Linked DNA regions of Homo sapiens: region 2 is linked to region 1. The links come from fine-mapping of genetic effects on gene expression. A gene starts in region 1. The other region holds a variant in brackets. All regions are shown on one strand. Distances are from middle to middle. Region 1 holds the start of FA2H (fatty acid 2-hydroxylase). Region 2 overlaps FA2H (fatty acid 2-hydroxylase).

The links.
Region 2: its variant is fine-mapped to the expression of FA2H in nasal epithelium (TOPMed, PIP 0.99).

Annotation. Positions count from the first base shown.
Region 1 is chr16:74,773,445-74,776,347 of GRCh38, reverse strand. FA2H (fatty acid 2-hydroxylase) reads left to right here and starts at 1,528. Exons shown (of 7, transcript NM_024306.5): 1 at 1,528-1,862. The coding sequence starts at 1,593. RefSeq lists silencers at 1,222-1,281, 1,292-1,421, 1,432-1,801, 1,842-1,891.
Region 2 is chr16:74,711,627-74,714,529 of GRCh38, reverse strand. FA2H (fatty acid 2-hydroxylase) reads left to right here. Exons shown (of 7, transcript NM_024306.5): 7 at 261-1,561. The coding sequence ends at 340. Among named protein-coding and RNA genes, the nearest start is that of MLKL, 12 kb to the right of the region's middle. The variant C/G (reference allele first, on the strand shown) is at 1,404.

The DNA.
Region 1 (2,903 bases):
TAATCCCAGCATTTTGGGAGGCTGCGGCGGGAGGATCACTAGAGGCCAGGAGTTCGAGACCAACCTGGCCAACATGGTGAAACCCCGTCTCTACTAAAAATACAAAAAAATTAGCCGGGCGTGGTGGCACGCGCCTATAGTCATAGCTACTCTGGAGGCTGAGGCAGGAGAATCGCTTGAACCCGGGAGGCGGAGGTAGCAGTGAGCTGAGATTGTGCCACTGCACTTCAGCCTGGGCAACAGAGTGAGACTCTGTCTCAAAAAAAAAAAAAAAAAGTGCACTATGGGAGGCCATGGCAGGCAAATCGCTTGAGCCCAGGAGTTTGAGACCATCCTGGGCAGCATGGTGAAACCTCGTCTCTACAAAAAATACAAAAATTAGCCAGGCGTAGTGGTGCATGCCTGTAGTGCCAGCTACTTGGGAGGCTGAGGTAAGAGGATTGCTTGAGCCCGGGAGGTCGAGGCTGCAGTGAACCAAGATCGCACCACTACTCTCCAGCCTGGGTGACAGAGTGAGACCTTGTCACGGGAAGGGAAGGGAAAGGAAGGGAAGGGGAGGGGAGGGGAGGGGAGGAGAGAAAAAGTAGATTCACCATTCGGTCCAGCAATCCCACCACTGGGTATCTACCCAAAGGAAAAGAGTCATTATATGAAAAAGACACTTGCACACGAATGTTTGTTTTTTGCAGCCCAATTCACAATCGAAAAGATATGGAACCAACTTAAATAACCATCAACCAATGAGTGGATAAAGAAAATGTAGTTGATATACACGATAGAATACTACTCAGCCATAAAAAGGAACGAAATGAAGTCTTTTGCAGCAACTTGCATGGAGCTGGAGGCCATTATTCTAAGTGAAAGTGATTCAGGAATGGAAAACCAAACACTGTATGTTCTCACTCATAAGTAGGAACTAAGCTATGAGGACGCAAAGGCATACAGAGTGATATAATGGACAATAGGGAGAATGGGAGGGGGTGTAACACACACACACACACAAAACCCTACACATTGGGTATAATGTACACTACTCGGGGGACAGGTGGACTAAAATCTCAGGACTTACCACTATACAATTCCTCCATGTAACCAAAAACCACTGGTACCCCAAAAGCTACTGAAATTTTAAAAACAAACAAATATTTGCACCCGAGGCGAGCACCTCATTCGCCTCTCGCTCTCTCGGGCACCTCCTGGAGCCAGAGGGTCCCATGCGGCCAGCTCCTCCGTGGAAGCAGTTGAAGTTATTCCAGCAGCGATCAGGCCACCGAGGATGTCCGCCCAGACAACCACCCGCGACGGGGAGACTCGCTCCGCCTGTGTCCGCCCACCCTCCTCCCGCGCGGGACACACCTGGCGGGCGCGGCACTCCCTGTCCGCGGCCACCTGGCGCGCAGCTCCCGGCGCCGGGCCCGCCCCTCGCGGCTCTGCCGGGGCTCCCGGCCGGCCAATGGGAGCGCGGTATGCAAATGAGCAGGTGCGGTGGCGGCCCGCCCGGAACGGCCGCGGGGCTCCCGGGATGTTAGAGGCGCTCAGGGTGGCAGCAGAGCAGACGCCGGGCTGCGCGCTGGGAGCTGCGGTCTCCGGCCATGGCCCCCGCTCCGCCCCCCGCCGCCTCCTTCTCGCCCTCCGAGGTCCAGCGGCGCCTGGCGGCCGGCGCGTGCTGGGTCCGCCGCGGGGCCCGCCTCTACGACCTCTCCAGCTTCGTGCGGCACCACCCGGGGGGCGAGCAGCTGCTGCGGGCCAGGGCGGGCCAGGACATCAGCGCCGACCTGGACGGGCCGCCGCACAGGCACTCGGCCAACGCGCGCCGCTGGCTGGAGCAGTACTACGTGGGAGAGCTCCGCGGGGAGCAGCAGGTACAGCCGGGCCGGGGCCCCCCACCCCAACCCAGGCCTCCGTCAGCCTTCCACTCCCGGGCGAGCCCCGTTCACTTGCCCTCTAGCAGGACCCAAGGTGACAGCTTCTGCCCTCCCTTCCCTCGCTTTCCCTCTCTTCTCTCCAGGCAACAGGTCACTGTCGTCCCCTCCAACCCCTCCTTCCTCTCTCCAGGAACTTGCTCTTCCTTTCCACCCTTACCGCCTGGCCCGCCTCCGTGCCAGCTCTCCCATTTCCCCAGCACCCCTCCTTCCAGCGTGTTCCTTCTGCAGCCCCTGCCCTCCGACAACCTGGATTCCCGTTTCTGTCCCCAGCCCCCCATACGCCTCGGCTTTCCTTCCTCTTCACTTATCGGCCTCTCCCTCTTTGCAACCACTCTCCGTTTCTGTTTGGATAATGGGCTCAACCTGTTCCCACCTCCCCATCCCACCTCACTTCTGCTTCAAAGAGGCACAGATCAGTAACTCTTCTCACTAGCTTGGGTTTCCTGGTGCCGCCCTGGCCTTGCCTGGGCCATGTCTGGGGTGGACTGTGTCCTCCAACCTCTCAGACCTTCCCTTATATTCTTGTCCTACACGCTGGCTTGGGACTCCAAAAGAGTGAAATGAAAGGCATGAGCCAGTTTTGCCAAGGAAAAGGGACCAGCACTTTGGACCAGACTGTGTGCTGAGCTGCACGCTTCTGTGCAGTACCAGCTCCCGATGGTATTTAAGTCCTTAACTCAACCTGGGGCAGGTTTTGTTATTCCCATTTCAGGATATGGAATCTGAGGCTCAGGGAGGCTCTGATTAATGCGCCTAAGGTCAAATAGCTAAATAGTGGGAAAGCCACATGTATCTGACTCCAAAATCAATGCTGGCTCCATCCCAAAAGTCTTCGGGTGGAGGAGACAGACCTAGTCCACAGGATTCCAGGTAGGCTCAGGCCAGAGGCAAAGCGACTCTCTTGATGTTCCCCAGGCCTGGCTCTGGGACTGGTATGGGGCCATCATGCTTAGATATACAGTAGTTCCCCCTTGTCCA
Region 2 (2,903 bases), 62 kb after region 1:
GGGTGGGAGGGGGCCACGTAGCCTAGAAACGAAGGCCAGATAAGGAATTAGGGTTTATTCCAGCTTCATGCTGGGGACAATAAAAGACACAGGTTCCCCACCCTTGACTTCTGCCAGAATGGCCTCGGGAGTTGGGAAGGCCAAGGGGACAGATATTGACATTGTCTCCACCTCTTATCCCTACCCTGGCACCCTTCCCAAGCCAGCGCACGCCTGCTCCTTCAATGCCTCATCTTCTCCCCGTTTGTCTCCCTCTCTAGGATTTGGTATCAGCACTAAATTGTGGGATTACTGTTTCCACACCCTCACTCCAGAGAAACCCCACCTGAAGACGCAGTGACAACTCCCACCCCCTCCGTCCTGCCCTCAGCCCGGCCCTGGCCCCTTCCCGACCCCCACCCGCCATTCAGACCCCATTAAGAAGGTTGGCTTGGCCAGGCAGGATGGGCTGTGTCCGGCCCTGCAGCCTAGTGGAAGGTGCTGAGGGGGCCCTGAGGCAGGACCGCCCTCCTGACCCCTGGTAGGAGGGTCACATCCACTTGGTGGCCAGGTGGCCCTTGGTGACCCACTTCTTCCTGGAGCGTCCCTGCCTAGAGCTCAGCCCACAGGACTGCTTCAGGCCGTGGCCACAGGTAGCAGCCGCAAGGGGAAATGAAGAAAACTGAGCCCTCGTGGCCACCTGTGTCACCCTTGTGCCTTAGCCTCATGGGCTGCCTAGGAGCTGCCTGCACGGCACAGCTCGCTTTCACAGTCAGAAGTGGGTCTGTGGGATCTGTGGTCCCTGTCCTCCCTGCTGTCCCTTCTGGGGAGGCTTTGGTGGCTCTGAGGTGGACAAAGAGCTCTCGCAAGAAGAGACAGCGTGATGCCTCCCACAGTCCACCCCAGACCCTGGGGCAGCCCCTCTGGCCCTGCCAGCTGCCTGCGTCGTTGGGCCCAGGGTGGCTGGCAGGAGTCCCAGCTGCTTGCTTTAGGACCTGGCAGCTTTTCTTGCCGTCCCTCCCCTGCCTCCAGAATCACAGCCCTTCTCCCCAAGGGAGGCTGAGGAGGCTTCTCCACCAGTGGCAGCCCCACCCCGTCCCTGGCCATTCTTGGCCTCCACCCCGCTCAGGCCCCTACTCGGGCGCTCCCAGAAGGAGCCACCTCTCAGTGCCTCACCTCCCCCTGCCTCCCAGCCTCCGCAGATGAGGTTCCTGCCCCTTCCTCCTCGTAACCAAAACCCTCACTGCTCCCAGGACGGTCTTATTTATAAACCAGATACATGTTCTTAGTCTGGTCCCAGACCAAGGAGCTGGTCAGACGGCCCTTTCTAATCCTACATGTTGAGCTTATGTAAAAAATGTTGTTTCCTCCTGTTTTTGGTTCCTTTCTTACCCACAAACCATTACTACTTGAAACTTAAAAAA[C/G]TCGCCAAGTGTAAAGGCTAAAGAGAAGCAGTTTGACGGACCTTGTGATTTGTACTGTTTGCTGCGGAGCTATTTAAAGATTTTGGAATAAATATACAAAACTACGGTTGTGAAATAAAAACTTAAATTGTATATTTTGAAAAATAAAACACTGAAAAGAAACCAACAAAAATGAGTTGTTCATCAGACTCCCTCGTGGTTGGGAAGGGGCAGTGGTGTGGGGAGGGATAGAGGGGCAGAGGATTGGTCCCCAGGGAGGGAGATTCTAGCCCTGACCAGGGTGGGTAGAATTGCTGGGGCATGGTGATGATTAAAAGCTGACCAACTCTCAGCTGGGCGCGATGGTGCATGCCTGTAATCCCAAGATTTTGGGAGGCCAAGGTGGGAGGATCGCTTGAGGCCAGATGTTCAAGACGAACCTGCCCAAAATAGCAAAACTCCATCTCTAAAAATAAAAGAAAACAAGACAAAAGAAAACAAAACAAAAGGAGAAAGCTGACTGACTCTTATTCTCTCACTCAGCTTTATTCTGTTTCTAAATTCTCTGCAGACAGCATCTCCTCTTATTGCCTGCACCTGGGATGCATTGTGCCCACAAACCACTTTGATCCGCCAATGGGGAGGGATCTCTTCTGGAGTTTATCTAACCCCAACTGAGCTTCCAGTCGACTTTCCTAAAACAGAGGGAGAAAGGCTCCAGCAACAAATGCCCATAGTGGGAACTAGAACCTCAAGCAGCTCAGTCTCGGTGAAACTGTTGCTTGTCTTTCTCTGCTGCCCTATCGGAACCACCTAGGAAGCTGTCGAAGTGCAGCTCCAGGGCCTCGCACTCAGGGTCTAGTTCAGTAGGTCCAGGGGGGTAGGCCCTGGACTCACCTGTCTGAGGACACGGAAGCGGAAGCAAGCTGATGTTGGGGAGCCTCGGAGGGAGCCCAGAACTCTGCTGTGTCTCCCTGCTCTGGCAGTCATAGGGGCAGCTTTATGCCTGCAGCTCCCAGCCCGAAGATAAGTAGGACCCGTCGGAGCCACCCATCACTCGAGTCCCTGAAGCCTGTCACCGGAACCCAGCCCGTCCAAGCAGCAGAACTCATAACCTTCATTTACTGATGGAGCTGAGCAGCTCACCCTAGACCATCACACCCAGGGGGAGGGAGGCAGAGGAAGAACACAGGAGGAGCTCCGCAAGTGTAAACACACATGGCCACAGCAGGAGAAAAAGCCTAAGGTGAGCAAGATTTAGCAAAAAAAAAAAAAAAATTGAAAATTTTCTTTAAGAAGAGTGAAACAGGCCGGGCGCAGTGGCTCACACCTGTAATCCTAGCATTTGGGAGGCCGAGGCAGGCGGATCACTTGAGGTCAGTAGTTCGAGACCAGCCTGCCCAACATGGTGAAACCCCATCTCTACTAAAAATGCAAAAATTAGCTGGGGGGCGTGGTGGCATGCACCTGTAATCCCAGCTACTCAGGAGGCTGAGGCAGGAGAATTGCTTGAACCTGGGA